Linked DNA regions of Homo sapiens. The protein of the gene in region 2 purifies or fractionates together with the protein of the main gene of each other region. This does not show direct contact. Each region holds a gene or a part of one and is shown on either strand. Other genes may lie near its edges.

Region 1 (3,500 bases), on a different chromosome or scaffold from region 2:
GTAGCCTCCAACTCCTGCACTCACACGATCCTCCTGCTCAGCTTCCTGAGTAGCTGGGATGACAGGCATGAGCCACCACTTAATGGCTAACTTAAAAAAATTTTTTTGTAGAGACAAGTTCTTGCTATGTTTCCCAGGCTGGTCTTGAAATCCTGGACTCGAGTGATCCTCCCACCTGGGGCTCCCAAAGTGCTGGGATTACAGGTGTGAGCCACTGCGCCTGGCCTGTGGTTTTTTATATCAATTGTATGGAATCTGAGTTTGATCTCACCTCTAGTCTAGAGCAGTGGCTCTCAGGTTTTAGTGTGCAACGGTATCATCTGGAAGGCTTGTTGAAAAATAGACTGGTGGGCCCATCCACAGAGTCTATGACTCAGTAGGTCAGGAGTTGGGGCCGAGGACCTGCATTTTGAATAAGTTATCAGGCAAGGGCTGATGCTGCTGATACAAGGAGGGCACTTTTGAGAAACACTGCTCAAGAGAAGTTCTTGATTGTACATAAATGCATTTTGCAGCTAAATATACACTGAATAGCCTTTAACACAAATTGTGGCTTCATTTAGCAAAAAAAAGAGTTTCACATAAATAACTACAGGCTAGCCTCTGGCTAGGAAGAAATCTCATTAGAGCTTTATACCTTTGATAAAAGAAAAACAAATGTTATTACCACAGCAATACATACTGAGTAGGAAAATCAATCAGAACAAAGACCTTTCAGAAGTCAGGGGTTATTTTCCCAGTTCACTGTTTAACCTTTTTTAAGCACCTGCTTCTGCAGAGTTTGATGACTCTAACTATTAATATATCTGCTTTCCTTGAAGCTGCAGGGAAATAGGGGATATTTTTTTCTTATCTTGCAAGCTCTTTATCCAGAAATTTAAAGGACTGTAACCTTTAAGAACAATATGGCTGGGCACAGTGGCTCACACCTGTAATCCCAGCACTTTGGGAGGCCAAGGTGGGCAGATCACCTGAGGTTGGGAGTTCGAGACCAGCCTGGATGACAAGGCGAATCCCCGTTTCTACTAAAAATACAAAAATTATTTGGGTGATGTGGTGGACACCTGTAATCCCAGCTACTTGGGAGGCTGAGGCACAAGAATCACTTGAACTGGGGAAGGGGAGGTCGCAGTGAGCCAAGATCGCACCACTGCACTCCAGCATGGGCGACAGAGTGAGATTCTGTCTCAAAAAAACAAAAAAAAGTAAAATTAAATAAATGCAAAATGTGTATGAAAGTGCTTTGCAAAATACAGAGTATAATACTGACATATATGAAGCATTGTCAAAATTACTAAACTTAAAAAAAGAAGAACTTGTCAGATACCATTTTAGCTTCAGTTTCAATGATTCAGTAGTCACACTGTTGAGCTATGACTCAGTCAACGAACATTTTACAAAGTACTGGGGATGCTGTGCTACATATGGGGATTCGTCATGCACATGCTTCTGAGTTGCACAGCGGTAACTACACACACCCTTGTCCCCACAGAATGTTCAGACTTATGTATTTATAAGTTAAATGGCTACAAACCTTCATTTTAAAGACCGGCTGGAATTCTTTCAGAGCAGATAATAATTTAATTTGAATCGAGGCTCTTTCGGCTTCTTTACCATCTGCAAAAACATCAAAGAGGGCATCCAAAGCTTCTCCTGCTACCACAAGGGAAGGATCTTTGGTGGTAACTTCAAGCAGAAAGCACCCAATGTTCTGGAAACAACAAAACACATTTAGTATGACTAACACCAGTCTCCAAAACAAGTACCAACTTTGAATGTGGCAATAACTCATGCATACTATTTTATATACAAATGCCAGGGAAAAATTAAAACTTCAAGAGATTAGACTTAAATACTTATAAACATACCAAGTATAAGCAAGATAAATTAAACATATTATAGTTTATATTCATAAATAAAGTGAATTAAAATCCATAAATGATGTATGATTTTGGAAATCACTAAATTTTCCCCTCTACCTCTCTCAAAAAGGATTTCTCCATGATGTCAAGATGCATAGAAATATTATCTGTAACAACAACGACAACAACAAAAAATCTGCTTTTAAAAGCATAAGAAAAACACTTTAGGCCAGTTGCAAGTGGCTCACACCTGTAAGTTCAGAACTTTGTGAGGCTAAGGCGGGAGGGTCGCTCGAGCCCAGGAGTTCAAGACCAGCCTCGGCAATGGAGCAAGACCTCATCTCTAAAAAACGTAAAATAGGACTGATCTGAATCGAATCTAGTCTGTAGATCTAACTGTCAGTTTGTAGGAAATACAAGGATAAAAAAACAAATTTACCACCACAAGGTAGCAATCAGACAAATCCAGAAGGTTTTGGACACTATATTGGACAACTGATCCAGGAGGTGAGAATAACCACGTGGTGCCGGGGAGGAACTGTTCAAGATTAAGAGAGAAAGAGAAGACCCCACAGGAAACATAACATGTGGACTTCAGCAGTGTAAACAAGCTCTCTGTAAACAGATAATTTTGAGGCAACTGTAAAATTATGAATATGGACCAGGAATTAGACACACTAAGAAATAACTGTTGCCGGGTGCAGTGGCTCATGCCTGTAATCCCAGCACTCTGGGATGCTGAAGTAGGTAGATCGCTTGAGCCCAGGAGTTCAAGACCAGCTTGGCCAACATGGCGAAACCCCATCTCTATTAAAAATACAAAAATTAGCCAGGTGTGGTAGTGGGCACCTGTAATCCCAGCTACTCGGGAGGCTGAGGCAGAAGAATTGCTTGAACCCAGAGGCGGAGGTTGCAGTGAGCCGAGATCACACTACTGCACTACTGTACTCCAGCCTGGGTGACTGAGACTCCATCTCAGAAAAAAAAAGAAAAAAAAAAAAGCTTTGCAAGTATCATTTTTCAAAAATAGATTCTTAAAAACATCAGTCATCATTGTAAAGTTCTTAGCAGGTTAAGAGGTACTTTATAATAATGAGTTTATTATCCACTAGTCTCACACTTCAGCAATTATTAGCACACCAAAGTGTAATGTTACTATGACTGTCCTTTTAATTACTAGTGACGCTGTACTCCTAACAGTGCAGTTTGTGAGCAACTGTGCTAAGTGGTAAGAGCAAATATGCTGAGGGAATTGCTAGTATATTGGCACTACCAGGGTTGCTGCTTAAAATTTATGGAGTGGTATTAGAATTAATTAACTGTGTTGTATTTTTCAGAATGCATGTTGCCTGGTGTGCAAGGAAAATGGTGTGGATTGTTCATTCATCAGCAGGAGAATGTAACATGCATACATTGGATGCAACAGCAAAGGCAGAAGGCATCTTTAAAAATTCTGAATTTGCCCTTTCACTAAAGACAGATTTATTTTTTTAAAAAAGTACCTCTGGAATAACGTTAAATTGTAAAATGTGGCTCAACTTTTCAAATACTTACCTAATTAATACACATAGTTAGATCAAGCCAAAGGGTATATTCTAATAATATGACTCAATAAAGCAACTTGATATGACTTCTTCT
Region 2 (3,500 bases):
GTAACACCACTGCTCTCCAACTACCTAGCCACCTTTGCGGTGTGCAAAGCAGTGGCCTGAGTGTTAAACCCTCTGCTTGCCAGAATGGCTCTTACACTCAGTAAGTACAAACAAGACTTTTTGTCAAGTTTCTAAATCGGGAAAGGCTCTAAAATCAGAAAATGATAAAGTCTGTTAGCCCAAGACATTTCTGTTATTCAGACTTGCTTCAGCACCAGGGTTGGCTTCCTCCCTGACACACTTTTTCCATCTGAAGCCAAATGATGAGGGGTACAGGCATCTCCCTTCTGGTGAGGAGGACTCTGGAAAGCAGCAGAGCTGCCTAGGCATCAGCTTATCCACCAAACCTTTATGCAGCGCCTAGTCATTGCCAGGCTATGACGAAATAGAGCTACCAAAAGGATGATAATTATAAGATCAATTCAATACTGTTTTCCTTTCTGACTATCAAGGCATCAGCATTCTGAAAATCCAGCCAGTGGGACTCAAACCCACAAATTTTGTAATTCTCCAAACGAGAGTTTAAAAGTCCAGTGAACATTCCATGGTGCCCTGGATCTTGTTAAACTTCCAGATCACTGAGCACTGAGCAGGTGACCAACAAGTGGTTGGTGGATCTGTGAATGGCTGGGCCAAAGGCAATTCTTGGAAGGTGAGACTTTTCAAAGAGAAGCTTCTGGAGATTGAACCTGTCTTGGAAGTTATAACTAAGGTAGGCCATGTGTTTACCTGGGAGCTCCTTTCAGCAGAGTTCAGTGAATCCATTCGTTTTCTATTGGTACATAGTGAATTATCAAAAATTTAGTGGCTTAAAATAACACCTATTTATTAGCACACAAATCTGTAGATCAGAGATCCAGGCAAGGTATGCCTGGGTTCTCAACATGTAGGCCAGGCTGAATTCTTTTCTAGAAGTTCTGGGGGGGAATTTTACCTCTAAGCTTATTCAGGGCCCATTTTCTTGCTGGTGCTCAGCTCCTAGAACCTACCTATATTCTCTGCCAGCTCCCTCCATCTCCAAAGCCAGCAACAGAGAATTTCTCCCTGGTCAAATGCCTCTCATGCTTTGACTCTTAGTTCTCCTGCCTCTGACCTCTAGACCCAGATTTAAAGGCTCATGTGACTTGGTTAAATCCACACAGAAAATCTCCCTATTTTAAGGTCAACAGATTTGGGAACTTAATTACTTTCCTTCCTTGCAGCACTAGATTAGTGTTTGATTGAATAACTGGGAGAAGATACGTATACCTTATGGACCAGGCATTTTGGAGGCCATTTCAGAATTCTGCCTAGCACAGGGAAAGAAGGAAAGGAAGGTAGAGCCAAGAGAGCTGCCTGAGGATCACAGTGAGGGTGCTTTTCCTCCATTTCAGGAGCAGCAGCCACTGTCAGAGAACTTCAATCCATCAATCTCTCAAGCAATGCATGGCTACTCTGCCCCCAACCCAGTAAGGAAGGTTGAAGATGTACAACAGTGAAGGGTCCCTGATCTTAGGGAGTTCCAATATAGTCGAGAGACATCATCTGTGCCCCCTTCTGAGAAATGTCTAAGATGGCTCACCATGCATAGGAACATCAGTATAGGCTGTCGTAGTCCAGGAAGGCTTCATGGAAGAAGTGGGAGGCACTGAGATATATCATATGCAGAATGCTAGTGTAAGTGGTAGGAAGTTTTGTCATGGGAGATATATGAGTTGGTCGTAGCTGGAGATTGTCGTTGAAGAACGAATAGACCATTGAGCAATAGAGATGACAGGTGAGAGCTACTGTGACCTAGTTTAGCTCCCTAGGGCCACCTCCTAATCAGGGCCTGAGCAACATGGGGGCGGTTTGGGCCTCCGTGCTGGGAAAGTGGGAGTTGCTGAATGGAAGCAGTCACTGTCTGGCCATGGAGGACAGTGGCAGCAGCAAGACTTGGAGAAACCAAGGGCCAGAGGTCTGCCTAATGGAAAGGAGAACTCACCAGTGTCAGCTGCTCTGCCAGAACTGTGTTCCAATGAAGGGTTGTCTGTTTTTTTATTCTATAAACACAGCCAGGCCTGTACTTTGACCCAAATTGGAATGCAACAAATGCTGTCACTCTAGGGGCAGCACTAGAAATCCAACTGTGCTGTTTAACTTCTTAAAACCCTGCAATGGCTTCCAAGGATAAATTCCAAACCCCTTAGCTATGGTTTCATCTGGAACTGGCTGATCCAGTCCACTAGGCTGGGCTCATGATACATTAAAGGGAGAGATATGAAGTTAGGCAATCCTTTTTCATCCTTCACAAAGTCTGGCTTTTAAGATAATTGCCCAGCTAAAGAGGTCAGTAATTCCATCCTCTGGACCCAGGATGGATCCACAACACCTTTGTCCCAGGCAGTAGCTGCTTATTCCTACCCTGGGGTGATAAGTGTGGCTCACTCTTGAGAGAGATGGCTGCAAGTGGATGCAATTTAAGGTGGAGACATAAACACATGGTTTAATATTTTCAAAATGTCACCCCCACTGTATCCTCATTACCTTGAGGACCCCTTGTTAAAAAGTGGTGAAAGAGCCTGCTAAGAAATAATGTGTAGAGTTGTATCATTGCATTTAACATCTTGTTCAATAGATTTTAACAAGGACCATTCACCACCCTAGTCACTTTCATCTCACGGTTACTTCTGGCAGATATACATGGTTAAAGCTAACATTCAGGGTCTGATTAGCACATAGTGTTCATTTGCTCAGGGGCAAGCAAATCTTAAATGTTTTGCATGTTGGTTTGACTTCAGAGGCCTCAGAGGAATCATAACCCTTTCAAAGATAGCATCTTTGGTTCAGATGAACCAGAACACTTTTGAGGAATGATAAACCTCTATACGAATGCATGCCCAAGGGAAAACAGAACATTGCTTCTCAATTCCAAGCTGAGGCTCATTCATTCATTTGTTCAGTCAACAAATATTCATTACCTACTATGTCTAGACACTATGCTGGAATGAGGTACAGTGTTGAGGGAAATTAGGGCATGCACCTATCCACAAGGAATTAGAAGGAAGACAGACATCAGTCGAGTAATTGCACAATTAAATGTAAAATGACAACAGTGAGTCTTGTTTTGTGGGAGGTTTAATGAAGTCAGGGAGGATGGGCCAGTTTCCCTGGGGAGATCTGAGAGAGGAGAAAGATATTAACCTGGGGAAGGGGATGGAAGTGGGGAGCAGGTAGAGAATAGAGTAAGATAGAAAAGCATGCCAGGCAGAGGAAACAACCCATACACAGGCAGCATGGGGGAAGAGAGCCAGTCATGGTCACTTGAAGAACTTGAAGGGGAGCCAGTGGAATAAGGCAGTTAAGGGGTGTTATAAACTGAACTGTGTCCCCTGCAAATTCACATGTTGAAGGCCTAAGCCCCGGTGTGATTGTATTTGGAGATTGGGCCTTTGGGAGGTAATTCGGGTAAAATAAAGTTGTAAGGGTGGGGCCCTAATCTGATAAGACCAGCATCCTTATAAGAAGAGCAAGAGACACCA
Region 3 (3,500 bases), on a different chromosome or scaffold from region 2:
AATCCACAGTAGGTATTAGGAGAGAGCAACAGAAGCCAGGGTTATCTTCCTGGGTAAACCCTCAACAGCCTGCCCATGTGTAGCAGTAACTAAAACACTGCAATTGTTTTAAGTCTGGCTTGAATGTTGGCTGTTTTCTCACAACAAATGTACCTCAAGATGGTACTACCTGCTCCCCAGTGCCCCTTCCAGATGCAGTTCCTACCCCTTCCTGTCAAAATCTCTGTCTTCTGAAATTCCTGCCCCATTGCTGTCCTCCTTTGTCCTAGGTTTATCGTTCTTATCATTCAGGTTGTGACCACTTCACTCAGTCACCTTATCTATTCCTGCAAGTAATTCCTCTACAGCACATCCAGGCACATCCAGGTAACTCCACTCCATGACAGTGACACATCACACATACCAACTGGATATGCCTTTGCCTCCTAGGCTGTTATGTCCCTCACCGTCTTGTTGTCCTGGCCCATAGTCATCACCTAACATGCAAAATAATGATGGCAAAAAAAATAAAAGGAAAAGAATAAGAATAAACATTTAAAATCAATAAATCTGACCATGGTGAGAATAAATCATGGGTGTCATTTTCTGGGCCATTTCTAAGGCTACAGAATTCTCCCCTCATTCCTCAAATTCCAGCTCATATTGGTCTGTGTATAAATGAATCCATACAAATCTACTGAATAAGGCATTTAAAAAATAATCAACAGAAAAGTAGTGAGATCACCTTCATTGGAAAAGAAATTGAGTATTTTTTTTCTGACTATAAATCTTGACCTAATTATTAAACAAAACCTTTATATTAAAATAAGTAAAATATATTTGAACCATGCTGAAAACCAATATTACCATAAGAGAAAAATAATTATTATCAAAGGTGAAAACAACTAACCTTTTTTTCTCAAGGGAGGCTCATCTATTTCTCCTAGACCAAGATTAAAAGAAAAACAAAGTTAGAAAATATTTTAGCATAGAATAATATGACATCATTATTTTCCCCTTTTGTTTATTTAAAAAAATCTATTAGTTTTAACAATCATAGTCTTTACATTACTTTGCTTCCCAAATTCCAGTTTTTAAGTATAAAGTTTGTTTATATACATTTATATAAGATTGTTTCATTTTTATGAATTCAATAAAATTGTGGCAGTGATCCAAATTATACATTATAGGTTATATATCATATTAATTTCAACTCTCTATTGTTCATGTTGAACTCTTACTGGGGCCAAAACAAATATAATTTCAGGAAAAGTTATAAAAATACTCTAATAATAAAAGCTTTCCTGGTAGTCAAGGCTGAATACATGATTTCTGATGACTAAGACTGACCCTAAAAAGTGTTATCTAATAGATGGAATCACAGTGCTTTGTTCTTTTCATACTCATTCAATGGCAGCTTTTATGTGGTTTGAGATGGCTATTTCCTTTTATTCATTAATATATATGAGAGAGCACATAGGTTAGTTGCATAATTGTTAGGACATTTAGAATGTGTCCTTCTATTCTACACCACCATTTGGTCCAATAAATTTACTCTTTTGATTGTACTTTTAGTAAGATTGCTTTCTGCTATTTGACTATAAATATGACATATGTGTATAAAACACTTATATGTATTTTTAGTTTTACTGTTTTTATTTTAATCTTCCTAGAGATAAACTTGAAAAATAACTATTTTTTCCAAAGAAGCATATAAATGTGAGTTTGTATTGTGGTTTTATAGCAGAGCATAATGAGACTCCCTTTGCTGTAATGCTACATTAATATTAACATTTAATTTTGACATCTTTGCCATAATGGTAGATAAGCTATAAGATGAAAATTAAATAAAGAACAATTTACTGTGTTTGGCAGCCTGTTGATATGCTTTTAGCAGTCAGAAGTGTATTCATTTTGGTTTAGCTTGACCCAAGTGCTCATTTGAATTTAAACTGAGGCAAGCCACTATAATACATATTTAATGTTGCTCCTAGCAGTTAGATATATCTCTATGTTCTTTGTACCTTTATCAGTATCTTCGTCACCATCATCATCTTCTTCATCTTCAGATGAGATGATGTCAGATAACAAAGAAAAGAAGCCATAGATCCAGTCCGTGGTTTCCTCCATAGCATCACGTACCAGTTTTAAAGGATCTGAGCCAATCTTGGCAATAGAGCTTGCTAAAAGTAATTAAAAAAAAAAAAAAAGAAAAAGTTTGTGATCATTTCCAAATAACTTAAGAAAAGCTGTTTTTACTGATTTGTTGTTTTGACAAAAAGAATATGTCAATTTCAACATTCTAAATATCTCCTGGCTACAATTTTTTGCGCAGAAATAGAAACTTCATCTTGCTATAATATGCATGCATGCCAAGAAAGAAAATGCCCTTGGGAAGTTTATAATCCAAATAAGAGTTAGCACTGGAAAAAAAATTAGGAATGAATTAAAATAATGTGTATTTATGTTACCCAGAGTGCAAATAAACCCTATGTTATGGATGTTCAGGAATGGAAGAAATAATTTCAGCACATATTGTATGGGACAGCATTATAGAAAAGATGACTCTGTAAGTTTTCAGACAAATAACAAGTTCTGCAAGTTGACTAAGGTAGTTGTGGCTAAATTAAGACTGATAGGCCCATTTATTCTAATTTGTGATACCACAGGAAGAATCTGGAATAGTCAAGTTAGTGATCATATCAAGCTCTAGTTGGAATAGGTTGGATTTATCTTAGTCATCCCTGTACATGAAATAAAAAAGTATTTGAACTGCTAGTAACTTCAATGGATAGAATCTATAAGTCTTCCCTTTTCTATGTCCTAGGAGATATAAAATGTTTGCTAAATGAAAGATTGAATCATAAAAAAATGCAAACAAATATATTAGGGATTTCCAAAATTTTATTCTTCCAATCATATGAAAACTGCTCTGAAGAGGCAAGCATAGCCTTTAGGATGTGATTACAGAGGTGATCTATCTAGAAATATGGTATAAATTGCATCTGATTTTTTATCAAGCTGTAATTAAATTTTAGAGCTGTGTTTTCCTTAATTTTAAAAACTATTTTAGCTTTTCAGAGATTTTTCTCTCTTTGATATATTTAAGAGATGAGAATTATATCAATGTATTATACTACCTAAAGGTTAAGTACATCTAATTAGGCTTTTACTGTGACTAACATAGTAAGTCATTGGAAGATTTGAGCAGAAAGATGAAGTGATTTGACTTCCTTTACTGTGTTGAAGTTTGAAAGGGTGCCAGGCTGGGAACAGGGAGATGAGTATGAAGCCAACTGAAATCATCCAAGAGAAAGATGATCATGATTTCTATCAGGGTGGTAACAGTGTGTGTGGTGAGATGCAATCAGATTCTGAATGTATTTCAATGACAGAATTAATAGTAGAAGCTTCCAGTGTGGCTGTGATGTGAGAGAAAGACAGAATTCCAGGATAACTTCTAAGTTTTTGGTGTGAGAAACTAGAATGAAGGAAGGAAATGCTCTGAGCTGGGGGAGGAC

Evidence for each region. Proteins that work in one complex are often made in the same cells at the same time.
Region 1: the proteins of GPR39 (region 2) and HEATR3 purify together in Homo sapiens (co-immunoprecipitation; one large-scale study listed by IntAct). This does not show direct contact.
Region 3: the proteins of GPR39 (region 2) and TRDN purify together in Homo sapiens (co-immunoprecipitation; one large-scale study listed by IntAct). This does not show direct contact.

Annotation. Positions count from the first base shown.
Region 1 is NC_000016.10:50,100,470-50,103,969, reverse strand, and holds part of HEATR3 (HEAT repeat-containing protein 3), read right to left. Parts: intron 1,712-3,500; coding exon 1,535-1,711; intron 1-1,534. UniProt on the Homo sapiens protein: Plays a role in ribosome biogenesis and in nuclear import of the 60S ribosomal protein L5/large ribosomal subunit protein uL18 (RPL5). Required for proper erythrocyte maturation.
Region 2 is NC_000002.12:132,423,305-132,426,804, reverse strand, and holds part of GPR39 (G-protein coupled receptor 39), read right to left. Parts: intron 1-3,500. UniProt on the Homo sapiens protein: Zinc-sensing receptor that can sense changes in extracellular Zn(2+), mediate Zn(2+) signal transmission, and participates in the regulation of numerous physiological processes including glucose homeostasis regulation, gastrointestinal mobility, hormone secretion and cell death.
Region 3 is NC_000006.12:123,546,451-123,549,950, forward strand, and holds part of TRDN (triadin), read right to left. Parts: intron 2,163-3,500; coding exon 2,004-2,162; intron 923-2,003; coding exon 890-922; intron 1-889. UniProt on the Homo sapiens protein: Contributes to the regulation of lumenal Ca2+ release via the sarcoplasmic reticulum calcium release channels RYR1 and RYR2, a key step in triggering skeletal and heart muscle contraction.